2 separate regions of the Homo sapiens genome follow, and region 2 is linked to region 1. Evidence: fine-mapped expression QTL. A gene starts in region 1. The other region holds a variant in brackets. All regions are shown on one strand. Distances are between the middles of the regions.

Region 1 (16,099 bases):
CATTGTATTCACTAAAGCAATCATAAGGCCAGCCCAGATTCAAGGGGTGGTAAAACAGTTCCCACTTCTTGATAGAAAGAGTGGCTGAGTCACATTACAAAGGGAGTGGAGGCAGGAATGTCGTTAATTAGGGCCATAAAACTGCAATCTACCACGGTGACTGTGGCCAAGTTACTTTGCCTTTATGAGTCTCAGTTTCTTTTTTTTTTTTTTTTTTTTGAGACAGAGCCTCACTCTGTCACCCAGGCTGGAGTGCAGTGGCACGATCTTGGGCTCACTGCAACCTCCGCCTCCTGAGTTCAAGTGATTCTCCTGCCTCAGCCTCCCAAGTAGTGGAATTACAGACACCTGCCACCATTTCTGTATTTTTAGTAGAGACAGGGTTTCACCATGTTGATCAGGCTGGTCTTGAACTCCTGACCTCAAGTGATGCACCTGCCTTGGCCTCCCAAAGTGCTGGGATTACAGGCCTGAGCCACCACGCCCAGTCTATTTCATGAAGTCTTAACTGAAAATAATAACACATATCTGAAACAATTTTACTAAGGAATAGGAATAATATACCTATGCCTATTACTAGTGAGCATAGCATTTATTAGTTTATCTGAAACTTGTTGGCTAAAAGTTGCAGCTATCTTACTGTTCTTGATTCAAGTCAAGTTCATTTCACCCTCAGGGCCTTTGCAATTGCTGTTTCTTTTTGCCTGGAATGCTCTCATTTCAGATTTTCACATGATGGGTTCTTCTCACTCAGTACTCAGCTCAACTCCCCACTTCTCATGCACATCTCGCTGACCAACCTATCTAATGCCCTTACCTCCGTTTTCACCTTCACCTTCTGTATAATATTTATTGCCTTTTAACACTTGTCAATATCTAAAAATTATATAGTATATTCTTTAGCTTACTTTTTTATTTTTGAGACAGGGTCTTGCTTTGTTGCCCAGGCTATAGTGCAGTGGCATGATCCTGACTCACTGCAACCTCCGCCTCCTGGGCTCAAGCAATCCCCCCACCTCAGCCTCCTGAGTAGCTGGGGCTACAAGTGTGTGCCACCATGCCTGGCTAATGTTTGCATTTTTTGTAGAGACAGGGTTTCACTATGTTGCCCAGGCTGGTCTTGAACTCCTGAGTTCAAGCAATCCTCTTACTTTGGCCTTCCAAAATGCTGGGATTATTCAGGCATGAGCCACCACACCCAGCCCAGCTTATTTTTTTATTGCTTGTCTCTCCCACTAAAATGCAAGCTCTGTGAAAGCAGTAGCCTTGCCTGTTACGTTTATTGATGTATATCCCAGAAACAAAAGTGTAATTGGTACTTAGCAGGAGTGCAAAAATATTTGTTCAATGAATTTCTTAGCTAATTGATGGAAGAATAAATATGGCACTAGGTTGGGCTCTGAGGAAATGGCATATAGATTGGTTACTTTTGTAGGGGGAGAAATAGGAGGTTGAGTAAAGATTTGAAGTTTGAGAACATAACTAGGTCCAGTGAGAGGCCACAGTAGAGAGCCTTACACAGAGAGGGGACTCTGAATGCCTGTGAGTGACAAGGGGTACCCAAATAGGCCTTTTTCATAGTCCTGTAGACTCTGAGCCTCACTCTGCACCTTTTGCCCTTTTATCATTTACATTATTCCTTTTGACTTAGCACATTCCTTGTAGGAATTTATCCATTGGCTATACTTAAAAGGATTTTGGCAAGCTATATGAACAAGGGATTTCATTCGATTTTTTTGTTTGTTTGTTTGTTTTTTTGAGACAGAGTCTCACTCTGTCATCCAGGCTGGAGTGTAGTGGGATCTTGGCTCACTGTAGCCTTGACCTCCTGGACTCAAGTGATCCTCCTGCCTCAGCCTCCCATGCAGCTGGGACCACACATGTGAATCACCACAACTGACTAATTTTTTTATATTTTGTAGAGACAGGGTCTCACTTCGTTGCCCAGGCTCGTCTCGAACTGTTAGGCTCAAGTGATTGTCCCATCTTGGGCTCCTGAAGTGTTGGGATTACAGGTGTGAGCCACTGCACCTGGCCAAAAGGAACATTTAAGAACAAAAAAGTTCTCTTAGAAATTTAAATTGTGAAAACTCTGAATAAGAGGAGTCCCAGAGAGAACAAATAAAATAAATGGGAAGAAGTTATCAAGGAATAATTTCAAAAAAATTTCCAAGAACTGGACATGAGTGTCCAGACGGAAAGAGCCCTTCCATAGCCAGCACAATGGTTTTAAGTAGAAATAACGTTATGGCAAGTCATTGGGAAATTTTAGAGCAACAGGAACAAAGAAAGAATCCTTTACTTCCAGGAGAAAACGCAAAGACTCCAGAATCAGAATGGCACTGGATGCCTTATCCTTTAAAATGTTCATATAAGATTATGTTTATTATATTTTCACCCAATATTTCTAGGTATTTGTGTTGAGAATGGTGGTGCCATATTTCCTGAATAGCTAAAATGTGAGTTCCATGAAGGCAGGGATCCCCTTTTTTCACACATGTATCCATGTTCCTAGAACAATGTCTGAAATGTATTGAGTACTCCATAAATAGTTGTTAAATGAATACATAAAACAGAAACTCATATTGATGTTTTACCCAATAATGATTCTTTTCTTTCTTTCTTTTTTTTTTTTTTGAGACAGAGTTTCGCTCTTGTCACCCAGGCTGGAGTGTAATGGCGTGATCTTGACTCACGGCAACCTCCACCTCCCAGGTTCAAGCAATTCTGCTGCCTCAGCTTCCCAAGTAGCTGGGATTCAGGTGCCTGCCACCACGCCCAGCTAATTTTTGTATTTTTAGTAGAGCAGGTTTTCACCATGTTGGACAGACTGCTCTTAAACTCCTGACCTCAGGCTATCTGCCCGCCTCAGCCTCCCAAAGTGCTGAGATTACAGGCATGAGCTACCGTGCCTGGCCTGCATCATAATGTATTTAACCTTATTGATGAACTCAGTGTCTCTTTCCAATGCTTCAGGTGATTTAAATAATACTGAATTATGGCCAAGAGCCGTGGCTCACACCTGTGATCCCAGCACTTTGGGAGGCCAATGAGGGCGGATGACTTGAGGTCAGGAGTTCCAGACCAGCTTGGCCAACATGGTGAAGCCCTGTCTCTACTGAAAAAAAAAAAACAAAAATTAGTTAATTAGTTGGGTGTGGTGGCAGGTGGCTGTAATCCCAGCTACTCAGGAGGCTGAGACAGAAGAATCACTTGAACCTGGGAAGTGGAGGTTGGAGTGAGCTGAGATCATGCCACCCCACTCCAGCCTGTATGACAGAATGAGACTCTCTATTTAAAAAAAAAAAAAAAAAAAGAAAGAAAAAAAATTGAGTGAAATTCCTTGGTGACAGAGTGAAACTTTGTCTCAAAAACAAACAAATAAACAAACAAAAACTCCTTTTCCCTAGCCTCCTGTACTTCTTTCTTGGATATAAAATCTTTGCTTATCTCCTCCAGTGTTTTTAATAACATTTGTAAAAGTTCTTTCCAACTTTCTGACTTGTGTCTGTTTCTTCCTTCGTCATTTTTGTTTTAGTCTCTCTTCCATAGGCTTTGCTCAAGTATCTGTACACAACCGCCTGTCTTCATATTTAAGAATGACTTACTAAAAATATGATTAGAAGTTTTATGCATGGGTGGGGTGAACTGACTATACCATTTTGTTGGGGTCTTATCCTCTACAGAATTTTTTTTTTTTTTTTGAGATGGAGTTTCACTCTTGTTACCCAGGCTGGAGTGTAGTGGCACAATCTCGGCTCACTGCAACCTCCACCTCCTGGATTCAAGCGACTCTCATGCTTCAATCTCCCGAGTAGCTGGGATTACAGGTGCCCACCACCATGCCCAGCTTTTTTTGTATTTTTAGTAGAGACAGGGTTTCATCATGTTGGCCAGGCTGGTCTTGAACTCTTGACCTCAGGTGATCCACCCGCCTCGGCCTCCCAAAGTGCTGGGATTACAGGCATGACCTCTACAGATTTTTTTGGTGGTGAGATAATCTACCCCTCTGGAGAAGACCCTCCCAAACTCTTGCCTGGGAGGTATAAGCCTGGCCACTAAGGTTCTCAGAGCCAAATGGGGAAATAAGCTAGGTTATCCCTGTTCACTATGTAGACTTTGATTCATCTCTCTTGAATGCAGTGCGGTATCCCTGTCCTCAGCTGTGTCTGGTGTCTCCCAGTCAAAAGGCCCTCAAGTGTAGTCACTCTAGAGGATAAAGCTCTAGTCTTCTTCCAGAGTAGGAAGTGAGATCTAACTTCTTGCTATACAGACTTTCAAACAATAAGCTTGCTTTTAGCATTGTCTTCACCCACTTTCAGAGTTACATGGTGCCTCAAATTTTTAAGTCTTTCAGGGTACTGCATATTAATTAGCTTGACTCAGTGTCTCTACTGCTAGCGGAGGTTTCAGCATTCTCTTAGTTACTTCTCAACCACTTGCTTTCCACCAAATTTTGGTGCTGTCATCCTCTCTTCTTTTCTTTTTTTCTCCCTTTACTGTCATGAGGTATTCAATCTGCCACATTTAACTGGAAGTTGGGGCTTAGCTCTTAATGCCCCCATGGGAACAGAAAACAAGACCCTGGGTCAAAGAAACATTGGAATTGCAACTGAGATCCTCTACATAAAGCCAGGGCTTTCAAAGGAATGTCGTATCAGTGAAAGGGTAGACTAGACAAAAAACCCACCAACTGGCATACAAAAATGACAAAGAAGCTCTTTACCTTGACTCTGAGTAGGAAAAAGAACTCTCCTTAAAAATTCATAGACAGGCCGGGCACTGTGGTTCACACCTGTAATCCCAGCACTTTGGGAGGCTGAGGTGGGTGGAACACCTGAGGTCAGGAGTTTGAGACCAGCCTGACCAACATGGTGAAACCCTGTCTCTACTAAAAATACAAAAATTAGTCAGGCATGATGGTACGTGCCTATAATCCCAGCTACTTAGAAGGTAACTATGCTCACCACTATACCACCAACGCATCTAATCCCAGCTACCTAGGAGGCTGAGGTAGGAGAATCGCTTGAATCCGGGAGGCAGAGGTTGCAGTGAGTCAAGATTGCACCATTGCACTCCAGCCTGGACAACAAAGTGAGACTCTGTCTCAAAAAAACAAAAATTATAGACAGAGAAATGGCACACAACTGAATTAATACTATTAGGGAATCTTCAAGCCTAGAAACTGACGTACAATTGGTCCTAGATACAGGATACTCCTAGAGTGCCTGGTCCTGAGTATACGATGTTTTCTAGGTTGTCTGGCCTTGCAGAAGCAAATGAAAAAGTATTTTGAAAGTATTAATACATGGAGAGTCCCACTGCTAATGCTACTAATGCTAAGTGAAGATGATCTCCAAATTCATAATTATGACACACAAGGGAAACAATTTTTTTTTGAGTCAGGCTCTCATTCTTTCACCCAGGTTAGAGTTCAGTGATACAGTCATAGCTCACTACAGGCTTGAACTCCTAGGCTCAAGTGATCTTTCCTGTCTCAGCCTCCCAAAGTAGCTAGGACTACAGACATGGGCCACCATGTTCGGCTAATTTTTAAATTTTTTTGTAGAGATGGGGTCTTGCTATGTTGCCCAGGCTGGTCTCAAACTCCTGGCCTCAAGTTATCCTCCAATCTTGGCCTCCCAAAGTTTTGGTATTACAGGTGTGAGCCACAATGCTCGGCCTGAAACAAATAATGTTAGGAAGCAAATAATGTTAAGAACAGAAATTGCCTTTACAGTCTATTAACGACTTAAATTCTATGTTAGGACAGCTCAAGAGATGTTGTTTTTGCTTCTAGGCTGGGACAATCCCAGTTTTCTTCCAAGTTGACTCTGTCCTGAGTGGATCAGTGTAAGGAAGTTGGGCAAAAAAAGAAAAATACATAGAAGAATATTTCAAGATATCTCATTATAAATATCTGTACAGATATGTGCATACTTTTTTCTGGACAGACTCATAAGACAGTGTCAAAAATGATTTTCTTTGGGGAGAGGGACTTGGGGTAAGAGGAATAGGAAGTTTTCAATTTTCCTTTTTTAAAACATTCCTTTCGAGTTTGAATTTCTGATGTTTTATATGTATATATATATATAACTTTTAAAAAGTGATAAGAAGGCTTACTTGTATTGTGAGGTTACAGGGATACAGGCAGTTTCTTATTTCCTTTTTTAAAAAACTGGTTAATATCATAGTATTGGTTTAAAAAAAATCCCAAAACAACATAAACATAAACATGTCCTAAACCTGGTCTGGCTCAGAACTTTTCCCCCCTATATGTAATTTACAACCTACTTCTGGGAATAAATTAACACACTTGACAAAAGGTATAAACAATTTTCTGACAAACTCTAGAGACTGAAGACTTCTAAGAAGCCCAGTCACCCAGCTGTCAGTCAAGAGTCTAATTACCTTTAACTAAACATAGTTTTCTTTGATAGCTAGTCTAACAATGTTTACCTATTTCTTTTTTTTTTTTTTCCTTCTTTTTTGATACAGGGTCTCAGCTGTGTCACGCAGGCTGGAGTGCAGTGGGCTGATCACAGCTCACGATGGCCTCAACTGCCTGGGCTCAAGCAATCCTCCTGCCTCAGCTTCCCGAGTAGCTGGGACTACAGGCGTGCCACCACACCTGGCTAATTTTTTGATTTTTATCAAGAGGGTCTCGCTATGTTGTCCAAACTGGTCTCAAACTCCTGGGCTCAAGTAGTCTGCCCCCCTCGGCCTCCCAAAGTGCTGGAATTACAGGCATGAGCCACCAAGCTTGGTCTGATTATCTGTAGAAATTAAATGTCTCTATCAAGAGGAAATCTTTTAATTGGCCTAATAGACTCTTTTTCCTTTGCAGCAAGATTTGTGATAAAGTTTATAAGTGGTCATCACTAAAGTTTTTGAAAAATTTTTTAAAACATGTTTTAAACCTTCAAAAAAGTGGGTAATGTTCACCTCCATTACTCGTATAAAAGATATGGGTTCGATGGATGACAGGACATAGAACCACAGGAATAGAATGTAATTCATTCATTCCTTTGACAAGTATTTGAGTGCCTACCCTATGCCAGACTGGCAAGTCCTTGAGGGTCTACCATGTGCCAGGCAGTGTTCTTGAAGCTGGGGATACAAAAATGAACAAACGAGATTCGGAGAATAAAACTACAGTTCCCACAGTATCTTTCTCTTTGGCTTTTTTCCAGGGGGCGCTGCTTTCCGCGACTGTCTTCCCATGATTCTCGTTGGGCAGAAAAGCCCCGCCCGCTTATCTGCCATTTAAGCCAGCGCCCCTTGAGAATGGACTACAACTCCCACAATGCATTCGAGGGGCACCGTGTTAGGGCGCCACCTTTTTCCCGGCTGTGCTGTACCTACAGCACCCAGAACTACAGTACCCAGAAAGCTCCGCTTCCCCTCCTGGGTGTTATTGCCCCTTTCCTGGTGCAGGACGCGGTAGTGGCCAGCGAGAGTGTCAGGCCTGGGGTTTTCTGTGTCCTTCCCTGGGTCAGGGACGAGCCAGTGACTTGACTCTTGGGCGCTAAGCTTGGGAGGGAGCGCAGGAGGCCGCTGTCCTTCCTTTCCGGTTCACGTCACCCTTCTCTCCCTCTGTTGCTCCACCTGCAGCCACTTGGACGGCTCCGGGACTGATTGCCTGGGGCAGGGGTGGCAGTCGAGGCCGCCGGGGCCGAGGTGAGGCTGCAGCTCTCCGGGCGGCGGTAGCGCTGGGGAGGAGGAGGAGAGAAGATGGCGTCGGAGCTAGAGCCAGAGGTGCAGGCCATCGACCGGAGCTTGCTGGAATGTTCGGCCGAGGAGATTGCGGGGGTGAGTGCCGGAACCCGGGCGGGTGCGTCTGCCCCTCGCAGGCCGCGCCTGTGGGGAGGAACCGACTCCTGGACGTCCTGGAGCAGCCCGACCCAGACTTGGGGAAACAGCTGTGCCGGCCCTCGCCTTGTGGGGTAATAGCCCGGGGAGGCCACCGATCCTGCCCCTCTCTTTCCATTTTCAACAGCTGCCAGAGCTGCGCTGTGCACTAACTACGTTTACTTTCCCTTTCTGCCCAGGAGAACCCACGGCTCTTCCATCATACCTCCTTTCCCCCAGCCTCCCATTAAGTCTCCCAACACATGGGCCTTTGCCCTTTATATCAGCTCTTGGAAGAGGAGAAGAGACGCTTCTTGTGTTTTTGGTATAATCGCCCTAGTTTATCTAGTTAATTGCTTTTCCTGAGACAAGCGAAGCCGTGTGCTCCTCCGACTAAACATGCCACCCTAACCGAGCCCCTCTTTTGTTTTTGGGACTGCCCCAGGCACCAAGAAGGCAAACGACACTACCCTTCGTTATCCGTTTCAGTGCTATCTTTTTTTTTTGCACCGGTTTGATTAGTTGACAACGTTGATGCATGTGTGGAAAGTTTACTGAGTATGAGAAAGTAGTCGTGGAGTCTGGGAAATTTTAAAAATATTTTTTCTAGGAGTTAGGGGTAATTGGATGGAGAACAAATGTTATATAACGTTGATAGAGCAGCTTTCAACAAATACTGTATAAGCTAAACGTGAGAACTGGTCACAGTGTAGTAGGAGCAGTTATATTCCAAACGTAAAACCGTTCAAACGCACTATTGCATTAAAACTGTAATATGAATATGCTAGTGTAAATAGCAGAGTTGTAGGAACACCCATTAGAAGAGATTGCCGAGAATGATTATGAATGGACCAAGACAGCTTGGGCCCCACCTCTAAGACCTCCAATTAAAAAGGCTGCTAGGAAGGGAGTGACCCGTGAATAAAAGTCAGCAATCTGAATGCTACGAACAAAATTTGGGATTGGGGGCACTGTGGAGCTGTTGGTCAGTGAGTAGTTATTTTGCGTGAATTGGTGAGGACATTAAGTCCGGGTAGAAAGAAATGTCAGGAGTAGAGGTGAAGACTTTAAAGAAATACGTTGTTAAATGCTGAATCTTTGCTTGTTTGGGTGTGTTTTGTTGTTGTTTGTTTTTGTTTTTGAGACGGAGTTTCGCTTTCGATGCCCAGGCTGGAGTGCAGTGGCGCGATCTCAGCTCACCGCAACCTCAGTCTCCCGGGTTCAAGCGATTCTGCTGCCTCAGCCCCTCGAGTAGCTGGGATTACAGGCATGCACCACCACGCCCGGCTAATTTTGTATTTTTAGTAGAGTTGGGGTTTCTCCATGTTGGTCAGGGTGGTCTCAAACTCCCGACCTCAGGTGATCCACCTGTTTGGGCCTCCCAAAGTGCTGGGATTACAGGCGTGAGCCACTGCGCCCTGCCTTGGTGTGTTTTTTTAAACCTACTTACTTGTTTAGCCTAGGTCTGTTTTCATTTACTTTCTACTTAATGTTGTACAACTCAAGGAATTTCTGCCTTTCGTTTATCGGAGATTTGAAAAAAGAAAATGAAAGTAGTGTTACAAGTAAACTGTTAAATAATAATGACAGCTGTTTGCTCTCCATGCCTCTTCTAATTGATATCTGTTGCTTACCTCAAAGTACTGTTTTGATTTTTTTTCTCTCACTGAATTTTGTGTCTTGGTCCAGTGATACAGGGTACAAATTCCGTTATCCCATTCTAAAAGTGCAAACTATCAAGTGATTAGAGGTTCTCCAATTTGTAGAGGCTCCTGAGGAAACTGGTTATAAAAGTAGTGCGGGAGGCCAGTGCTCCTAGTTCTTGTTCAGTGAAATTCTCAAGCAGATGCAGTAAGGAAAAATCAAGGAAAATGCAACAAAAAATTATTAATTTGGACTTCATTTGAGTTTGTGAAGATCATAATCTGAGCTACATTTTACCCTGTTTACTTTTTTTGTTTGTTTTTTTGAGACAGTCTTGCTCTGTCGCCAGGCTGGAGTGCAATGGCGCAATCTTGGCTTACTGCAACCTCCGCCTCCGGGGTTCAAGTGATTCTCCTGCCTCAGCCTCCCGAATTACAGCTGGGATTACAGGCGTACGCCACCACGCCTGACTAATTTTTGTATTTTTAGTAGACACAGGGTTTCACCACATTGGCCAGGATGGTCTCGAACTCCTGACCTCAGGTTATCCGTCCGCCTTGGCCTCCCAAAGTCCTGGGATTACAGGCGTGAGCCACCGCACACAGCCTACCCTGTTTACTTTTAAATGCCTTTCTGAACAATAAGTTTTTTTTTTTCTTTTTTTGGTAAGAGATGGGGTCTTGCACTGTTGCCCAGACTAGAGTATAGTGACATTATCATAGCTCACTGCAGCCTTGACCTCCTAGGCTCAAGAGATCCTCCTACCTCAAAAACCAATATTAAAATATAAAATTCCTTCAACTATATAACCTTAATCTTGCCTTACTTTGTGAGGACTTTACTGTCTGTATTAAGTTAAAACACCTAACATTTAAAACTGTTTTTTTCAGCTTAGGCTTCAGCTTTTTTATCACACATTTAAATTAATAAAGTTTTTTCTTAGGTTGAAAGCACATTTTAGGGAAGAGAAACAAGTAGAGAAAACAGTGATTGTAGGCTTTAGACCTCTGTCATTGGTAATTTGTTAGGATCACTTCCATTTAAAAATCACCTAATGAGCACTAGTGTCAACCTTTCCACATTTCATTTACACACCGCTTTTCTTATTCCTGTTATAAGGAGGAAGAACTTTTTGTGATCCCATCCATTCCAGCTAGTATGCCTCACAAAGAAAAGTATCTAAGCTGACTCTTTAATATTTGTAAGTTTAGGATATTACAGTGGCCCTCTCTTCTCATTCTTCTCTTTTCTTGTTAGAATTGACTCCATAAGTATGACTTTCCCAACACTTCTTGGCTCTGTTTACTTTCTATACTACATATGGTTATAGTATGTTCCAGTGAGTGATTACGGTTTTAAAAGTAAACATGCCGGGTGTGGTGGCTCTTGCCTGTAATCCCAGCACTTTGGGAGGCCAAGGAGGGCAGATCACAAGGTCAAGAGATAGAGACCATCCTGGCCAACATGGTGAAACCCTGTCTCTACTAAAAATACAAAAATTAACCGGGCATGGTGGTGCACCCCTGTAATCCCAGCTATTCGGGAGGCTGAGGCAGGAGAGTTGCTTGAACCCAGGAGGCTGGGGTTGCAGTGAGCCGAGATCGCGCCACTGCACTCCAGCCTGGGTGACAGAGCGGGACCCCATCTTTTTCCCTGAATATAAAAGAAATACAGGTTGGGAGCACTGGCTCATGCCAGTAATCCCAGCTATTTGGGAGGCTGAGGTGGGAGGACTGCTTAAGTCTAAGAGTTTGAGACCAGCCTGGGCAACATTAGCTATACCCTGTCTCTACTAAAAAAAAATAAAATAAAATAAATAAGCTGGGTGTGGTGGCATGAACTTGCAGTCCTAGCTACTCAGAAGGCTAAGCAGGGAGGATCGCTTGAGCCCAGGTGTTAGAAGTTACAGTGAGCTATGATCATGCCACTGTACTCCATCTTGGGTGATACAGTGAGACCCTGTCTTCAAAAAAAATTTTGTTTTAATAAATAATGAATTTGTTAAGTTTTATGTAGAGTTTTAGGTCTGTATTGGTTATCTTTTTGCTGTACATTTTTTAAACCGTTTTATTGAGATATAACTCACATACTGTACAGTTAAATTCAGTGGTTTTTAGTATATTCAGATTCATGCAATCATCACTATGATCAATTTTGGGACATTTTTATCACCCCAAAAAAGAAATCCTGTACCTATTGGCAGTCACTTCCCTTTCACACCTAAACTCCTGAGGTCTAATCAACTACTAATTTTTGTCTGTGTAGATTTGCCTATTCTGGATATTTCGTATAAATGGAATTCAACATATTGTCATTTGTGGCTGACTTCTTTCTCTTAGATAATGTTTTAAATATTTATCCATGTTGGGCCAGGCGCGGTGGCTCACACCTGTAATTCCAGCACTTTGGGAGGCCAAGGCAGGTAGATCACAAGGTCAGGAGATCGAGACCATCCTGGCTAACACGGTGAAACTCCGTCTCTACTAAAAAATACAAAAAATTAGCCGGGCGTGGTGGCAGGCGCCTGTGGTCCCAGCTACTTGGGAGGCTGAGGCAGGAGAATGGCATGAACCCGGGAGGCGGAGCTTGCAGTGAGTCAAGATCGCGCCACTGCACTCCAGCCTGGGCAACAGAGCGAGACTCTGTCTCAAAAAAAAAATAATAAAAATAAAATATTTATCCATGTTGTACCATGTACAGGTTGAGTATTGTTACGCTTGCCACCAGAAGTGTTTTGGATTTTGGATTTTTTTGGATTTTAAAATATTTGCAGTTATACCAGTTGAGCATCCTTAATCCAAAATCCAAATGTTCCAATGAGCACTTCTTTGAGCATCGTGTGGGCATGCAAAGTTTCAGATTTTGGATCATTTTGGATTTCACGTTTTCAAATTAGGGATGCTCAACCTGTGTCAGTAATTCTTTCTTTTTTATTGCCAAATGACATTCCTTTGTATAGATAAACCATATATTATTTATCTGTTCATCAGTTGGTGAATATTTGGGTTGTTTCTACTTTTTGGGTATTATGAATCATGTTGCTGTGAACATTTTTTACAAATTTTTGTGGGGACATATGCTTTTGTTTCTCTTGGGTATATACATACCTAGAAGTGAAATTGGTGGGTCATATGTTAACTATTTTGAAGAACTGCCAGATTTTTCCAAAGCAGTTGCATTGTTTTACATTCCCACCAGTAGTGCATGAGAGTTCCAATTTCTCCAGATCCTTGCCAACACTTGTTTTTGCCTGTGTTTTGATTACAGCCATTCTTTTGGGTGTTATGCCTTCTCATTGTGGTTTTGATTTGCATTTCCCTCATGAGTCATGTTGGAACATCTTTTTATGAGCTTATTGGCCATTTTTATGTCTTCTTTGCCTATTTTCAATTAGTCTTTTGACCTATTAAATTTCTATATTTTATTTGTAAATATTCTCCTTAATTTGTAGAGCTCTTAATATAATTTGTTTAAAATTTTTCTCAATATATTCCCTAAAACTCCCACTTAAACACTATTGTTTTTATGGTTATGAGCACTAGTTGTTTTATGATTAACTTACATGTTGCTTATCCTTGTTTGAAAGCAAAACCAAAAGTAGTTAAAGGATACAATTTTAATTGGGTATAGAATAATAGAGACTGTAATAAAAGGCTAACTAACCTCTAGGGATTCTTTCATTTTTCATTTCATTTTTATTTTATTGTACTTGCTTTCTATCCCAAGGCTTAAATTTAGTATTTAATAGAGGGAAAGCTCCTGGAAACATTGTCATAACATGTTTACTTTAGAGGAATGAGTTGACAGTTTCTTTACTTCCCTTAAGAGGGACTTGTAGTAAGATAGTGAATGCTTATTACTCTCTTATGCCACATGGGTGTGACAGCTACAAGTGTCTGAAATAAAGACAAAAGGCCAACCAAACTGGAAATCTTAATTTTTCATGTTGAAGAAACAGTTGCAGTTAGCATATGTTAGAACTAATATGAAAAGCTATAGATTTTATTCTTTGGGGAAATGTGTGAGCTACTTCTGAAAGACAGTCATAAATTTTTCTTGCTTTTTATATTAAGTATGTATGTTTAATCAGCTTAAAGTGCCTGTAATAGAGCCCAAATCTTTTAGGTGATTGTGATTTTTTCATATAATGGTAGTAAAGTTTTTGGTTTTGAGACGGAGTCTCACTCTGTCCTCCAGGCTGGAGTACAGTGGCGTGATCTAGGCTCACTGCAACCTCCACCTCCTGAGGTCAAGCGATTCTTTTGCCTCAGCCTCCCAAGTAGCTGGGATTACAGGCGTGCACCACCACTCCTGGCTAATTTTTGTATTTTTAGTAGAGATGGGGTTTCACCATGTTGGCCATGGTGGTCTCGAACTCCTGGCCTCAAGTGATCTGCCCACCTTGGCCTCCCAAAGTGCTGGGATTATAGGCGTGAGCCACTGTGCCCAGGAGTAGTAAAGATTTGAAAAATGGGGAGCATATGCATGCCTTTCTTGGACCAGACTTTTAAGTCTTGTTATTTATAATAATATGTAATAAAGAGTGAAATACTTGCTTGTTTTACTAATAATATTTTTATGTAAAGTGGCTAGTTTTTTTTTTGTTGTTTGTTTGTTTTTTGAGACAGGATCTCACTCTGTCACCCAGGCTGAAGTGCAGTGGCGTGATCATGCCTCACTGAAGCCTCAACCTCCGGGGCTCAGGTGATCCTCCCACCTCAGCCTCCTGAGTAGCTGGGACTACAGGCATGCACCACCATGCCCAGCTAATCTTCTTTTATTTTTAGAAGAGACAGGGTTTTGCCATATTGCCCAAGCTAGACTCGAACCTCTGAACTCAAATGAGCCACCCGCCTTGGCCTCCCAAGTGCTGGGATTACAGGCATGAGCCAAAGAGCCTGGCCGATTTTTTTTTTTTTTCTTAACCAGAAGCTGATACTAGCGTCTGAATTTTTGTTGAAGAAATCTATGAACAAATTTGCTCTCGTTACAGTTACTAGACTGCATAATTTTTTTTTAGAAAGCATCCATGCTAGCCTGTAGTCCCAGCTACTTGGGAGGCTGAGGCAGGAGAATGGCGTGAACCTGGGAGGCGGAGCTTTCAGTGAGCCGAGATCGCGCCACTGCACTCCAGCCTGGGTGACAGAGCAAGACTCCGTCTCAAAAAAAAAAAAAAAAAAAAAAAAGCATCCCTTCTAAAGTAACCTTTCATTCTTGTATTAAAATTTTGCAACAGTGAAGTTTTACAGGAATGGGAACATAAAATATAAGGAAAAAAACTGGTTTTTAAATAAAATCTTTCAATATGTTGTAAAAAAAAGTCCGAAGCACTTAACTTTCTAGGATCATGGAGGTGAATTATTTTGGTCTTATTGCTTAATTTTTCTTTCATAAAGAGTAAATTGAATCCTAGCACCTTTGGGAGGCCGAGGTGGGCAGATCACCTGATGTCAGGAGTTTGAGACAAGCCTGGTCAACATAGTGAAACCTTGTCTCTACTAAAAATACAAAAATTAGCCGCGTGTGGTGGTGCACACCTGTAACCCCAGCTACTCAGGAGGCTGAGGCAGGAGAATCACTTGAACCTGGGAGGCAGAGGTTGCAGTGAGCCGAGATCGTACCACTGCACTCCAGCCTGGGCGACAGCACGAGACTCAAAAAAAAAAAAAAAAAAAAGCGCTTAGGATCATTTGACTACCTTCATTCTTGTTTTGGTTTGCTGACAATGGGTGAAAAATGAGACATTTACCTTTGAATGAGGCCAAAACGAGGTCTTTTAGCTCAAAGAATAAGATTCTAGTATGCTTGTTGAGGACTCTTTTTCTTTTTTTAAAACTTGTCCTCTTTATAATTACTGAGCTTAAAGGATGTGTATGTATATATAAAATTTTGATTGAGTCACTCTGAAGGGAGAGAATACTTAAAGCCTGTAGGATTGTCTCCTAAGAAATGATGCTGCTGCTGCTGTTTTATTTTTATTTTTATTTTTTTTTCCCTAACCACTTGGCCACCAGGGAAGAAATGCTGTTGTTTTGAAAGTAATTTAGTCTCTTTCCTACTTGCATAATGTAAACACAACAATGTTAGTAATATTTGGAAAATAGTTTAGTTTCACTTTAAGCATGAAAACTCTTTCACCGTTTTTGGTTATAAGCTTCTATCCAGTCCCTTAACTTATGAACAAAATTTTTACATTTTTAGTAAAAGTTCTCTGAAAACAGAAATTGACTAGAAAGTTAATATACATCACCTCATGCATATTTAAAATCTCTCTGTATGTTGTTTTTAGAAGGAGTGGTCTGAAGAATATACAAGTAATAGCTAAAATGAAGACCTTATGTTGACTTCTTATGATGTTACATATCACTTGAACATACTTTTTTTTTTTTTTTAAATAAAAATGTAACTGGAATTAGGTAGTAATCCATAGGTAAACATTGGAGGTTTTTTTTAATTTCAGCTTTTACTTTAGATTTAAGGAATACATGTGCAGGTTTGTTACATGAGTATATTGCACCTGGGTAGTGAGCATAGTACCCAATAGGTAGTTTTTCAACTCACTTCCCCTTCCTCTTTCCCTCCATCTGTGGGTTTTGTTCACGGT
Region 2 (16,099 bases), 46 kb before region 1:
TTCTTTAATTTTCTATATTGATAGTAATAATAATAATGGTATCTATTGAGTTTTGTTTTTGTTTTTGTTTTTGTTTGAGACAGAGTCTTGCTCTGTCACCCAGGCTGGAGAGCAGTGGTGTGATCTCAGCTCCCTGCAACCTCTGCCTGCTGGATTTAAGCAATTCTCCTGCCTCAGCCTCCTGAGTAGCTGGGATTACAGGCACATGCCACCACACCCAGCTAATTTTTGTATTTTTAGTAGAGACAGGGTTTCGCCATTTTGGCCATGCTGGTCTTGAACTCCTGACCTCGGGTGATCCACCTGCCTCTGCCTCCTAAAGTGCTGGGCTTATAGGCGTGAGCCACCGCTCCTGGCTACTGAGTTCTTATATATGTGTTTGGTATTTACTACCTCATTTAATAGGCATGTCATTGTTCTCATTTTACAGACAAGAGAAGGACACTTAAAGAGTTTACCAAAGCCATAGAAAAAATAACCATGGACTCCAGGATTTAAACCCAGGTCTGTCCCCAGAGCCTGAGCTTTTAACCACCATTGAGGTCCTAGCATCAGGACCGAGTCAACGAAACTACTGTGGAAGTAGGCCCAGTTCTAGCACAAATGCAGAGAAGATGTGGAATAAAGTATAATCCAAATAAATCTCCAGGTGCTAGGAATGAAGAGAACCATCAAAGGCAGAGCAGCTAGCTGAGCTGATGTCATAGTAGCCCAGAAGAATATGGATCTGGAGTTAGGGCCGGGGGCTAATACCTGTGAGAGGACAGGAGGAAGGCAGCGAGCCCTGCATAAAATTGAAGGCCTTGAGCTGGCATGGTGGCACATGCCTGTAGTCCTAGCCACTTGGGAGGCTGAAGCAGGAGGACCGCTTGAGCCCAGGGGTTTGAGGCCAGTCTGGGCAACATAGTGAGACTCCGTATCTTAAAATAAATAAATAAATAAATAAATAAATAAATAAGGCCTTGTGGCACTCTTCCCCCCTTAAATGGAGATAGAAAAACTGGACATGGGCCCTGGGAATCAGCCAGGAAGCTCACCATTTGTTTAAGGTCTGGAACATGAGGGGGAAAATGTCATCCAGAGAAACCTAAACCCTGGGCCTATGCCATGTGCATAGGAGTGAGGGCCATTGACACACTCAGCATTCTGGCAGAAGCAAATGTGTGAATCATCTCCGCGGAGAAAATGTTACTACTCAAGAGTTTCAAGGATTCCCATTGGGAGAAACAACCTGCTGAAGACAAGTTCACAATAAAAAATTACAAACACCCTACTATGCTGGTGAGAGTCAAATCCTGTCTAAGATTTAAAGAGTGAAAAATAGGTTGGACTGGAAAAAGAAAGAAAAGAAAAAGCAACTGTCAATTCAAGCCAGAAAGAAGACAGACATAAAGAAAGCCAGCTGCAAAGTTCACAGGAACATTGCTTCCCCCAAAGTCAGTCGGCAGCTGTAAAATGCCATAAAGACCCCCTCTTTGAACGTTGACTGCTTTCCTACCAAACTCCCAGACAGCTTTGCCATACCCACCTATTGCTGGTTAGCCCATTGCTGAGCTACTGCTGCCTCATGGCAGCACCCAATACCTACTTAATCCCCACTTCTCTTAACTGACCCCACCCCCAACCAGAGTAGGAGCAACCAATCCAGAACTGATGCCTACTTCCCTTAGAATCTTCAGAATCCTTCAGCAGCTTCCTGTCTTCCCTCTTTGGAGCGACACTCCACATTTCCCCCGGAGTGGCCTCCCTTGCTGGACTGAGTTAATAACTAATTTGGTCAGACTACAGACTGGCTCCTGATGCTCCGTGGTGATTAGATTTTTATCAGTAGAGAGTTAGCATATGCAACAAACAGAAAAATTGGCACTTAACCAAAAGTCAATAGAGAATCTAGAGGATGCTATAAATAATAAGTTGACTTTAAATGATTAAAGAAATGATGGTGATAATGATAATGATAGCAAACATATAATGCTGTTCTAAGGGCTTCACAAAATATTAACTCATTCAATCCTCACAAAGTTCCTGTGAAGTAGGTACTATTGCTTTCTCTCTTTTACAGATGAGATATTAGGAAATTTGCTCATGGTTACCACAAGCTATTAGAGTGGCAGAGCTGAGATTTGAACCCACGCAGTTTAGTTCCAGAGCATATGCAACTAATCACTATAAATTAAAAAGCAACAGGACACTATTAAATAAAAGTAGGCCAATTTGAAGGAAGAACCAAATCAAACTTCCAGAAATGAAAAATAGAGTCACTCATTCATTCATTCGTCAAATATTTATTGAGCTCATATAATGTGCCAGACACACAGAGGCTCTGAGGATATTGCAGTGAACAAACCAGACAAAAATCCTTGTCCTAGTAGAGTTTACTTCTTTTTTTTTGGGGATGGTGTCTCGCTCTGTCACCCAGGCTGGAGTGCAATGGCACAATCTCGGCTCACTGCAACCTCCGCCTCCCAGGTTCAAGCGATTCTCCTGCCTCAGCTTCCTGAGTAGCTGGGATTACAGACGTGTGCCACCACACCCGGCTAATTTTTGTATTTTTAGTAGAGACGGGGTTTTGCCATTTTGGCCAGGCTAGCCTCAAACTCCTGACCTCAGGTAATCTGCCTGCCTCGGCCTCCCAAAGTGCTGGGATTACAGGCATGAGCCACCATGCCTGGCAGAGTTTACATTTTAATGAAGAAGACACAATAAATATAATGCGTAGCATGTTAGGTAGGGCTAAGTGCTACACAGAAAAAATAAAGTAGGGAAGGGGGATATGAAACATCAAAAAGGGGGTTAAGGCCATGTGTGGCGATGCGCACCTGTAGTCTCAGCTACTGGGGAGGCTGAGGTGGGAGGATCACTTGAGCCTGGGAGGTCGAGGCTGCAGGTGCCACTGCACTCCAGCACTCCAGCCCGGGTGACAGAGTGAGACCCTGTCTCAAAAAAAAAAAAAGAAAAAAGAAAACAGAGGAGACGGGGCGGTTGAAATTTTAGATAGGGCGTCTGAGAAAGCCTCACTGAGAAAGTGATTTTTATTCCACTCCTGAAAAAGTGAGAGAGCAAGCCAAATTGGTATATGGGGAAGAACTTTTCAGGCAGAGGAAGCAGCCAGAACAAAGGGCCTGAGTGGGGAACCTGCCTGGTGTTTTTAAGTCACAGCAAGGAGCCTTGCTTGCTGTGTGGATAGAAGTAGAGTGTGTGTGTGTGTGTGTGTGTGTGTGTGTGTGAGAGAGCGAGAGAGAAAGTAATGGGAGATGAGTTCATGACATAACAGGGGGCCAAATCATGCAGGGGCTTGCAGGCCACACTGAAGACTTTGGTTTTACTCCAATGACAAGGGAGCCACTGGTGGGTTCTGAGCAGAGGGACATAAGGATCTGACTAAATTTCACAGCATCACTCTGGCAGCCATATTGAGAATAAAGTGTAGGTAGACCAGCCAGGAGACTACTGCAATAATCCAGGCAAGAAATGATGGTGACTTGGACCAGATCTATTTTTAGGTAAAACCCATAAGATTTCCAGTATTTGCAGTGTTAGACAAAGAGGAGTTAAAGGTTTTTAAACTGAGCATCTGTAATATCTGAGTACCACCTGTAATCTCATTAACTGAGATAGGAAAAATGGCAGGGTTTGGGAATGAAGATCAGGAGCTCCATACTTCCAAGTGGAGATATCTCCTAGCCAGCTAGGTATAGGGGTCTGGAGTTTAGGGGGGAAATCTGAACTAAAGACATAAATTTGAAAATTATCAGCATGTCTGTGGTATTTGAAGTCATAAGACTCATGACTTCATCTGGAAAGTGGTTGAGATTGTAAAAAAGAGAAGAGGTCCAAGGACTGAGCCCTGGGGATTTCATCATTAGGAAGTAAGGAAGATGAAGAGGAACCAGCAAATGAGACTGAAACAGAACACCCAGAAATACAGGAAGAAAACCAGGTGACAATGGTGTCTTCAAAGCCAGATGAAGGAAGTTATTAAGGTGTAAAAGCCAATAGATGGGTTAAACAGAAAATTAGGCCCAGATGAAGACAAAATTAGTAAATTCAAAGTTAGAAGACAACGGAAAATTTAAAAAGAGTGATTAAGAGAAATGGAGGAAAAAGAGATTCAACATGCATTTAGTGAGCATCCCTGCAGAAAAGAAGAGGGAATATGAAAAAAGCAATCTTTAAAGAGGAGAATATCTAAGAATTTTCTATAATAAAATTTAAAAAGATGTGAGTGTTGTCGGCTGGTGGGTTGGTTTCCCTGGGAAGTAGACTGGGACACAGATTAGCACACAGGAGGCTTATCAGGGAGTGCTCTTGGGATCAGCACCAGTGTCGGGGGTGGAAGCAGGACTGGGCAGAGGGAGAGGGTGAGTTATGATGGAGTCTCAACTAAGACTTCAGCCACCTCATGAAAAGAATGACCTGGTTTGCCCAGGACTTGGAAGTTTCCTAGGATGTGGAAATTTCAATGCTAAAGCCAGGATAGTCTCTGGCAAACTAGGATGAGTTGATCATCCTACCACGGGGAACTCTGAGACGAACATGGAACTTTAGAATTGTCCACCATGGGGATGAGAAGACTGGTTCTTTGTAGTCCTGCATCAACCAATCACTGGATGCAGCCTGTCTCCAGGAAGTAGTGTGACCCTGTGAGTAAAGCAGCACTATTCAGCCGAGAGCAATTCCTGTAGAGGACTGACATTTCTGACATTTGAGCATTGTCTTCTAGAAGCAGCCCCAGCTCCCAGTACCCAGCATCTGGAGGATTAGGTCCTTTGGTCTGGAAGAGAGATTTGGGTAGTGCAGGATTACATCTGCCATAATGAGTCTTTCTTTTGACAGTTCTCAAAAGAAGATGTACAAATGGCCAAAAAACATATGAAAAAATACTGAACATCACTAATTATCAGGGAAATGCAAATCAAAGCCACAGTGTGATACCACCTTACTCCTACAAGAATGGCTATAATTTAAAAAATTAAAAAATAATAGATGTTGGCATGGATGTGGTGAAAAGGGAACGCTTTTACACTGCTGGTGGGAAAGTAAACTAGTTCAACCACTATGGAAAACAGTATGGAGTTTCCTTAAAGGACTAAAAGTAGATCTACCTTTTGATCCAGAAATCTCACTACTGGGTATCTACCCGGAGGAAAATACATCATTATATGAAAAAGACACTTGTACAAACGTTTATAGCAGCACAATTTGCAATTGCAAAAATATGGAACCAGCCCAAATGCCCACCTATCAACAAGCAAATAAAGAAAATGTTAAATATATATATATAATGTATGTATGTATACACGCACCATGGACTACTACTCAGCCATAAAAAGGAACAAAATAATGGCATTTGCAGCAACTTGGATGGAGTTGCAGACCATTATTCTAAGTGAAGTAACTCAGGAATGGACATTGTATGTTCTCATTTGTAAATGGGAGCTAAACTATGAGGATGCAAAAGCATAAGAACAATACAATGGACTTTGGGGACCGGGGGAAGGAAGGGAGGGCGTGAGGGATAAAAGACTACACATTGGGTACAGTGTACACTGCTCAGGTGATGGATGCACCAAAATCTCAGAAATCACCACTAAAGAGCTTATCTATGTAACCAAATATCCCTGGTTCCCCCCCAAAACCTATTGAAATTAAAAACAAGAAGAAGACTTGAAAGGATCAAACTGTGTTTTAGTAATTTAACTCTGTCCCAGAGCAAAGCTTGAGACATTTATAAGAATATGAAAACATCCAGCATCTAACAAGGTAAAATACACAATGTCTGACATCCAATCAAAACTTACTAGGTATGCAAAGAAGTAGGAAATTATAATCCATAACAGTGAGAAAAATCAATTAATAGAACCATATTGAGAAACAGCACAGATGACAGAATTAGTAAATAAGAACATTGAAAGTTATTGTAAGTATATTTCACATGATTGAGAAGCTAGAGGAAAGACTGAGCATGTTAAGTAGAGACATGGAAGACATAAAAAAGGCCCAAATTGAACCCCTAGAGATGAAAACCATAATGTCTGAGATAAAATGTCACTGTGTGGCCTGAACAGCAGATTAGACACTACAGGAGTTAATAGAACTCATCAGAAAGATTTAACAATCAGAACCACCATGTACCTAAGAGTAAAGCCTTAAAGTCAAAGTGTATTAAGCAGAAATTAACAGATCCAAAGGAGAATTTGATAACTTCACAATCATAGTGGAAGATTTTAGTATTGCTTTATCAATATTTGATAGTAAAAAAGTGAGATTTTAAATAAAATATATACTTTTAAACATTTTAAATAAAAATCCAAAGTAAGCACAAATTGGCATTGAAGGTCTACAACCTCATGTACTGAGACATTTGTCATCTACCATGAGCTACTTTAGGGCAGGAACTGTGTCCTGTTTAGGATTGAATCTCCAGGGCCCAGCATGGGGCCTGACACTTTTTAGATTATCAATAAGTAAATACTTATACATTCTAAATAATAAGTGAATTCTAAATAAGTAGCTAAAGCATTAGTAAGTCTACAGAAGAATTAAATGGGCAGTTAAACAGTTTGAATTAATGGAGATGTATACAACTGTACCCAATAGCAAATAGAGCATACATATTTATTTCAAAAACATGAGAACAACTAAAATAGTCAACCATACAGTAACCATTAGACAATGAAAATTTTGCTGTCATCCAGTTGCAGGCGACTCTAACTGTAACTGATGTTTTCTTGCTATATAAGCAGTGAATTCAGATACTTTTAATGGTTCTTGCAAGTATAGTTATTTTATTTTCTGGGAAGTTGAGGAGGGGGCAACACTTCCTTCCTCCCATTCTTCATGCTGACAAGCTAATATCACTTCATAATCAGACAATAAAAACAAAAATCTTGATACAAGGACCTGACAGAACAGCAAGAAGCGATGTGGAACTCAATACAGCAGGTCCAAGAAGTGACTTAACAAAATCTCACAATCAGAGAATGTTAGAATTCAGCCCAAATCTCTGTATTGATCATCACCTTATTGAGAAGACGAGATATGAACTGTAAAATTATACTATACTGATTGTATAATAAACGGACATTCAGTTTTCAGCTCATATGTTGTTTCTATAAACTCCCCTGTCAAAAAGTGCATTCAAGTACATACTGCTATAGTTAGATATCTGGGTTGATTGAGCCCTATCTGATGATAGGCAGGACTCTCATGCCCAAGGAGATGAAATGAAATAGACATCAGTCTCATGGAAGATTTCTTCTTTTTTTATAACAGTTTTATTGAAATGTAATTCATACGCCATACAGTTCATCCATTTAAAATGTACGATATGATGTTTTTAGTATATTCACAGAGTTTTAAATCATCAACACAATCAATTTTAGAATATTTTCATTACCCCTGAAAGAAATTTTGTACCCATTTGTCCCATTAGCCATCATTCTTCATTGCCCACAACCCTAGGCAAACACTAATCTACTTTGCGTCTCTATAGATTTGCCTATTCTGCATATTTCATATAAATAGAATAATATACTATGTGGTCTTTGTGATTGGCTTCTTTCACTGAACATTTTCAAGGTTCATCCATGTTGCAGCAGGTATCAGTACTTCATTCCTTTTTATCAAATAATAGCCTGTTGTATAGATAATACCGCATGTTATTTATCCATTAATCAATTGATAGACATTTGAGTTGTTCCTACTTTTCAGCTATTATGAATAGTGTTGCTACAAGGAATTCCTGTATAAGTTCTTGTGGAGACATAGGTTTTCATTTCTTTGGGTTGTATAGCTAGTAGTGAAATTGCTGGGTCATATGATAAACCTATGTTTCACACTTTGAGGAAATGCCAGATTGTTTTCCAAAGCAGCTGCACCATTTGACATTCTCATCAGCAGTGCAGAGTTCCAATTTCCCCACATCCTTGTCAATATTTGTTATTATGTCTTTTTAAATTATAGCTATCCTATTTCATTGTGGTCTAAATATTGCTTTAATGGGAGCTTCTTATTCTTTTTCTGTTTC[CTTTTTTTT/C]TTTTTTTTTTTTTTTTTTTGAGACAGGATTTTGCTCTGTCACCCAGGCTGAAATACAGTGGTGTAATCACGGCTCACTGCAGCCTTGACCTGCAGGATTCAAGTGATCTTCCCACCTCAGCCTCCCAAATAACTGGGATTGCAGGCATGCACCACCACACATGGCTGACTTTGTTTTTTTTTTTTTTTGAGAAGGAGTCTCACTGTGTTGCCAGGCTGGAGTGCAGTGGTGCAATCTCGCCTCACTGCAACCTCCACCTCCCTCCGCCTCCTAGGTTCGAGTGGTTCTCCTGCCTCAGCCTCCGAGTAGCTAAGACCATAGGCACACGCCACCATGCCCAACTAATTTTTTTTTTTTTTTTAGTAGAGACGGTGTTTCACCATGTTGGCCAGGATGGTCTTGATCTCTTGACCTCGTGATCTACCCACCTTGGCCTCCCAAAGTGCTGGGATTACAAGTGTGAGCCACTGCACCAGCCCTCCTAGCTAATTTTTAAATTTTTTGTAGAGACTGGGTCTTGCTATATTGCTTAAACTGGTCTTGAACTCCTAGGCTCAAGCAATCCTCCTGCATCAAGCCTCCCAAAGTGCTGGAATTGCACGCATAAGACACTGTGCCAAGCCAATGGGGCTTCTTTCTGATTGAGTGTTCTGCAAAATAATTGAATGTTTTTAATTACTTTATATAATATGTACTTTATTAACTTTGTTTACTCACAAAAATAATCAGATTTGTTATATAAAAAGTGTTTGGTTTTCTACTACTGTATAACAAACTATCCCATAATGTAGGGGTTTAAAACAACAACCATTTTATTCTCTTGCTATTCTGTAGGTTGACTGGGCTCTGCTGGATGGTTCTTCTGCTCTATGTGATGTTGGCTGGGGCTGCAGTCACCTGGGAGTACTACTGTACAGGAAAATCCAAGCTATCTCTCTTACGTGTCTGGTACCTTGGCAGTGATGGCTGGAAGGCTGGACTCAGATGGGGTACTTGAGCCGCTAGGATTTTTTCTATTTCTACATAGTCTCAAGGCCTCTGTCTTTCCACATGGCCTTCCCAGCAGAGGAGGTGGACTTCATACCTGGCAGCACAGAGCTCCCAAAAGTGCAAAAAGGGAGACTTTGAGACTTTTCTAAGGCTTTGGCCTGGAACTGATGTAAGTATCACTTCTACCATGTTTTATTGGTTAAAGTGAATCTGGGCCAGTCTAGATTCCATGTGGGAGGGGACTACAGAATGGCAGGAGTCATAGGAGGCATGGATCCTTGGGGGCCACCTTTGGAGACTAGCTACCAGAAACAACACTATCAACAACAACAAAAGAAAACAACAACAACAAAAAATAGCCAGGCACATTGGTTCATGCCTGTAGTCCCAGCTACTCAGGAGACTGAGGTGGGAGGATCTCTCAAGCCTGGAAGATTGAGGCTGCAGTGAGCCACGATCATGCCACTGCATTCCAGCCTAAGTGACAGTGACACACTGTCTGAGAAAAACATTAAGGATAACTTTTGAGCACATTATTATTGTTAGTTATTGATTTTACCAAGAAACTAATGGATAGCATCTATTATGCCTGAATAAGGAGTTTTTGTGTCCTTTGCAATGCTGAAGACTGTTGTACACATCTCCTATTAGCTTGTTTTAAGCCAGAGCTTAATTTTTAATAATTCAGTGATGAATCTTATTTAATCTCTTAAACCTCTTGCCTAATTCTCTTTTACATTATGGGATTAAACACATTAAAAAGAAGATATGGCCAAACAATGACTCACTCTTCTTTCAACGAGATCCCCAAAGGCAGATAGACTAGAAGAAATGTGGCAGAAGTGAATGAAATACACAAGTCGAAACTCAGATATAAATCATCAGAGGCTCAGTCTATTGACTCCAACTTCCCCTTTCTTTCATGGCACAAAAATTAGTCTTAAAGGTTTGCAAATGCTACTCACTGCTGTACTTGCCACAAAATATTCCATATTGCGGCTGACATTACTAACTCACCGTCACAAACTATTTGCTTTGAGCTTTCTCTAACAGTAGGGAGAGGTCACACTGAGTCATCTACACTCTCACTCAGTCCCCTGAGAACCCTCAGGAGATTCATTTGCTTGATGGCTGGGCAGGATTAGCAATGTAGGGATGGTGGCTGTAGAGTGGGACCTTGGGCTGGTGGACCGTGTGCTCTTTGGGCCCAGGGCTGTATTAGGCTGAGGAGACTGAAGGAAGAGGCTGAACTCAGACTGGTTGAATGGAGCCCAATCAGGTCAATTTACTATACGGAACCCAGACATGGTGATATTGATGGAGCTCTGTGTTCTCACTCACTCACTTCCTGATTCTGCCTGGGCTGGTGAAGTGCATTGTGATGGGGTGGGGCTGGAAGGGTCCCTGCTCTGGGGCCACCTGTGTTTTGCTTCTTCTTAATAAGATCTGGAAAGTTCCCCCACTTTTACACTATGTTCCTTCCAATCACCAGCCTTGTGGGGAGGGTTGGGGAAATAAAATAGGAGCATCCCTTATGCCATGATTAAGGGGTGCTAAATAAAGCCCCCCTCTCTGAAAAAACCTGCCATATGGCTCAAGATACCTCCAGGACAACCTCCTTTGAGGCCAGGCATTGAAAGCAGCTGCAAAAAACCAAATGAAGTGGGGTACAATGGCACATGCCTGTAGTCCCAGCTACTCAGGAGGTTGAGGTGGGAGGATCACTTGAGTCCAGGAGTTCAAAGCTGTAGTGCTCTATGATTGCACCTGTCAGTAACCACTACTCTCTAGCCTAGGCAACATAGTGAGACGCCATCTCTAAAAAAAAAGAAAAAAAAGCAAATGAGGTTTGGGTGATCTTACATATACACCTATTCTCTGTCATTAACACTTTATCAATTCGGTTTATCAGACTTGCCCAGTGAAACATCTGAACTCTGGAAAAAGCACTCTAGACTGTATACTTTTACTGCAACCTCAGGTCCCAGATTTCAACCTTGAGAATTCTGCATATTTCTGCCAATGATAATTACAACTGTTGTACTGGAACTTTGTGTAGAAAGTATCAAAATACGATGATATCAAAATGAAACAGTCCATTCTTTACAGCCCACATTCCTTGGCTGGTTCAGAAGCTGCATTCTTTTTACTGTAAGAAAGCAAAAGCCAAACCAAAATTGGTGGGGGGTGGGGGGAGGGTGCATATTTAAAAACTGTGACCTCTCAGTGAGCTAAACCAGGACAGAAAAGTGAGAAGGATCATAAAGACTTCAGGGTAGGCCAAGTGCGGTGGCTCACACCTGTAATACCAGCACTTTGGGAGGCCAAGGCAGGCAGATTACTTGAGCTCAGGAGTTTGAGACCAGCCCGGGCAACATGGTGAAATCCCATCTCTACCAAAAATACAAAAAAATTAGCTGAGCATGGTGGTGCACATCTATAGTTCCAGCTACCTGGGAGGCTGAGATCAGAGGATCACTTGAACCTGGGAGGCAAAGGTTGCAGTGAGTCAAGATTGTGCCACTGCATTACAGCCTGGATGGCAGAGTGAGACCCCATTTCAAAAAAAAAAAAAAGCAGATTATATGGTGTAAGTTCATGTCTTTGTACATGTGCCCACCTCCCTGTTCCCACTCCTCCTTTTTTTCCACCTCTCATCCCCCAACTCCTGTGTCCTAGGCAGGCCTGGCTTTCCGAATTCACTTTCACTCCAGCCAGCCATTGCGATTGGCAGCCTGATCTATGGAGTGCAGGTGCATCCTAGTCTGACCTCCAGCCATGTGTTAAGCCAAGCAGGACAGGCTCTGCCCCAGCAGGGGTGGAAGATGGCACTTTGGAGGGTAAGTTCAAAACAGAAGAGTAACGGCAAGCCCACTCGACAACCATACCACATACTTCAATCTAGCTTTGTAACGAAGCCAACATTTTAATCTCCAAAAATGTAAAAATATAAAATAACAATAATTTCTAAAAAGAATCCTAAGAATCCAAATGGGGGAGGAGACATACTCCTCTATACTGCCCCTCCCCTGCATCTAGAGTTGCTTTCGGTTCCATCTACCAGTTTTCTGGAGTTCCCTGCCAGAGGCTCAGGGCTTATGGGGAGAGATCCTTAGGGTATTCCTTTTCCTTTTTATTTTTTAAAGAATTGTGATCTCACTATGTTGCCCAGTGTTCTCAAACTCCCGGACTCAAGGAATCATCCCACTTCAGCCTGCTGAGTAGCTGGGACTAGAGGCACGCACCACCACGCCAGGCTTCCTAGGGTGTTTCTGACTCAGCCTTTACCGACAGCCTTGCTCAGGCTATGGAACTATTCATCTGTGCATGCATATGAGCTGCATCCCCACTCCTTTACACTCTCAAAAAAGAGCACCCTCCATATCTCCCACAACAGTGAATATATAAATTCTTGACACCAATTGAACAAGTGTTTCTGTGTCAGACACCAGGAAGGGTACTGAGGTTACAGAAATAAAAGACAATCCATGAATTTTTTGGATGATCTCACAAACAAGTCATGTAAATGACTATTACACCATGTATAATAGTGTATTATTCTATAGAATATTCTATATATAGAATTTAAATAATATTTAAATTATTTAATTTAATTTATTATTATTTATAATTTTTTTAAATGCAGTATAATATTTATAATTATTTATAAAAAATTAAATTATTCTATATTCTATATAGAATTATTCTATATTTTATATAGAATTATTCTATATATTATTCTATATTCTATATAGAATTATTCTACATATTACTCTATATTCTATATAGAATAATTCTACATATTACTCTATATTCTATATAGAATAATTCTATATATTACTCTATATTCTATATAGAATAATTCTATATATTATTCCATATTCTATATAGAATAATTCTATATATTATTCCATATTCTATATAGAATAATTCTATATATTATTCCATATTCTATATAGAATAATTCTATATATTATTCCATATTCTATATAGAATAATTCTATATATTATTCCATATTCTATATAGAATAATTCTATATATTATTCCATATTCTATATAGAATAATTCTATATATTATTCCATATTCTATATAGAATAATTCTATATATTATTCCATATTCTATATAGAATAATTCTATATAGAATAATTCTATATATTATTCCATATCCTATATAGAATAATTCTATATATTATTCCATATCCTATATAGAATAATTCTATATATTATTCCATATCCTATATAGAATAATTCTATATATTATTCCATATCCTATATAGAATAATTCTATATATTATTCCATATCCTATATAGAATAATTCTATATATTATTCCATATCCTATATAGAATAATTCTATATATTATTCTATATAATATACAGCAGTGTATTCACGCTGCTGTAAAGATACTACCTGAGACTGGGTAACTTATAAAGGAAAGAGGTTTAATTGACTCACAGTTCTGCATGGCTAGGGAAGCCTCAGGAAACCTACAATCACGGCGGAAGGGGAAGCAAGGCACTTTCTTCACAAGGTAGCAGGACAGAGAGCAAGCAAGAGCAGGAAAAACTGCCTCATTATACCATTGGATCTCATGAGAACTCACTATCACAAGAACTTCATGGGGGAAACCACCCCCATGATCCAATCACCTTCCTCCCTCAACACGTGGGGATTACAATTCGAGATGTGATCTGGTTGGGGGACACAGAGCCAAACCATATCACACTATATGCTGAATTCTAGAATAGAGGTGCAATGGGTCGTGAGCACATAGAAGAGGAATTGTTTGACTCCATCTAGGGAAGGGAGGGGTTCAAAGCTTCTTATATAATGCTTTGGCTGCAAAGAACAGTGCCCAATTACAGTGGCCTAAGTAGTAAAGATATTTGCTATCTTACATATAAGAAGTATGGAGCTGAGAAGTCCAGGGTTAGTGTAGAATGCCATTAAGAACCAGGCTCCTTTTGTCCTGTGCATGACGGGAGAATCATTTTACTTTAAATCTCTTTATTTAAATCATTTTATTTTAAATCTTCTTCATTGTGAATTTAATATGAGCATTTCATGCTCATATTCATCATTTCTGATTCAGCAGTTCTGAATTTTTTCAGTAGATAAAATACATTTCAGGGTTTTAAAAATGTGATTAACTTACTCAGGCCAAATATGTTTACTTATCCTACGCATGTGACGCAGTACCTTTCAGTTCTGCAGTCATGACTGTACATTCCTTGATTGTCCCAAGAGTTGCTGAGTTTACCTTTATAACAACCGTTTTAGAGTCCAGAGGTAATTTCTCTCCAGCTCTAATAAAAATGACAAACTAGGTCAACTTCATTTGTCTTTGAAGTATGTTAGGAAGAAAAGGCAAGGTTGCAATTTTTTAAACTGTATTTATTTGTTTGATTACATGAGAGTAATACGTCTGTGTTCTAGAAGGTGTGGGCAATAAAGGAGGTTATGCAAGTTGGAAGTAGGAAGAAGGACAAAGGGGGCCTCCTGGAGTTGTGCAGTGCGCAACCTATGAGGCCATATGTGACAACCTTATTCTGAACACAGAGCACAGAAATAAAAATGCCCCATGACTCTACCTCCCAACAACAATATTAACATTTTGCTAAATTCAGCCCTTCTTCTAGGTATATAGTATGTTTAAATGATGTTATAATGTATAACTGCTTTATAACCTCTTTCACTTATAATTCATTATAAAAATTTTAAATACTTAAATATTCTTAAAAATATCATTCTCAATGGCACCATGTTTTATTGTTTTGTTTTGTTTGTTTGAGAACAGAGTCTCACTCTGTTACCCAGGCTGCAGTGCAGTGGTGCCATCTCAACTCACTGCAACCTCTGCCTCCCTGGTTCAAGCGATTCTCATGCCTCAGCCTCCTGAGTAGCTGGGACTACAGGTGCATGCCACCACGCCTGGCTAGTTTTTGTATTTTTTTGTAGAGACAGGATTTCGCCCTGTTGGCCAGGCTGGTCTCAGATTCCTGGTCTCAAATGATCCACCCACCTCGGCCTCCTGAAGTGCTGAGATTACAGGCATGAGCCACTGGGCCTGGCCTATTTTTTCATCCAACAAACACTTGTATGGTATTTTTATGTGAGCCAATATTTTAAGCTCATTAAAATATTAACTTGGCCAGACACAGTGGCTCACCCCTATAATCCCAGCACTTCGGGAGGCTGAGATGAATGGATTGCTTGAGCCCAGGAGTTCGAGACCAGCCAGGGCAACATGGTGAAACCCCACCTCTACAAAAAATACCAAGATTGGCCAGGCATGGCGGCATATGCCTGTAGCCCAGCTACTTGAGAGGCTGAGGTGAGAGGATCGTTTGAGCCCAGGAAATTGAGGCTGCAGTGAGCCATGCTCATGCCACTGCAGTCCAGCCTAGGCTACAGAGTGAGACCTCATCTCTAAAATAATAATAATAATTAACTCATGCGATCCTGCAGAGATATCTTTGTTTGCCCCTCCAGATGCCTCTATCCCCTCTCACCCTGCTCTGTGCCCTGGAAGGCTGATCTGAATAGACGGCAACAACAGGCTCTGTGACGTCTCCTTCTTCGGGTTTGCCCAGTGAGAGCTGTGGTAGTTTGGATTATCATTCCCAACTCTGTAATCTCTCCCTGTGTTAGGATTTTCCATGAAAGTATATGGAATATAAATATCTATTCCATTTATTTTAGGATCAGTCACATGACACACTTTGGCCAATGGGATGTTTGTAGACACCCTGAGCAGAGGACTGGAATGGAGTTTCCTTGGGTTGGCCTCTTGGCCACTCTCTCCAAAATGAGAGGCCCATGAAGCAGACCTGAATCTGACCCAAAGCCTGAAGCAGAGCAGGCCCAGTCAACTCAGAAGGAAGAAAAACAAATGTTTGTAGTTTGTAGCCACTGAGGTTTGTGGGTTGTTTGCATATACCATTATTGCAATCAGGGAGTGTAATTACAGGTATCTCAGGAGACAGGAGACTGGATGGTAATGTCAAGGTATGTATGAAGGGTCACAGGGCTGCTGGGTCCTTTCTTCAAAGCCACAGCTTCTCCTCT

What was found.
Region 2: its variant is fine-mapped to the expression of UBR2 in whole blood (INTERVAL, PIP above 0.99).

Annotation. Positions count from the first base shown.
Region 1 is chr6:42,556,586-42,572,684 of GRCh38, forward strand. UBR2 (ubiquitin protein ligase E3 component n-recognin 2) reads left to right here and starts at 7,444. Exons shown (of 47, transcript NM_001363705.2): 1 at 7,444-7,812. The coding sequence starts at 7,735. RefSeq lists enhancers at 7,006-7,085, 7,156-7,675 and a silencer at 8,708-8,837.
Region 2 is chr6:42,511,062-42,527,160 of GRCh38, forward strand. No RefSeq gene overlaps it. Among named protein-coding and RNA genes, the nearest start is that of UBR2, 45 kb to the right of the region's middle. The variant CTTTTTTTT/C (reference allele first, on the strand shown) is at 8,030.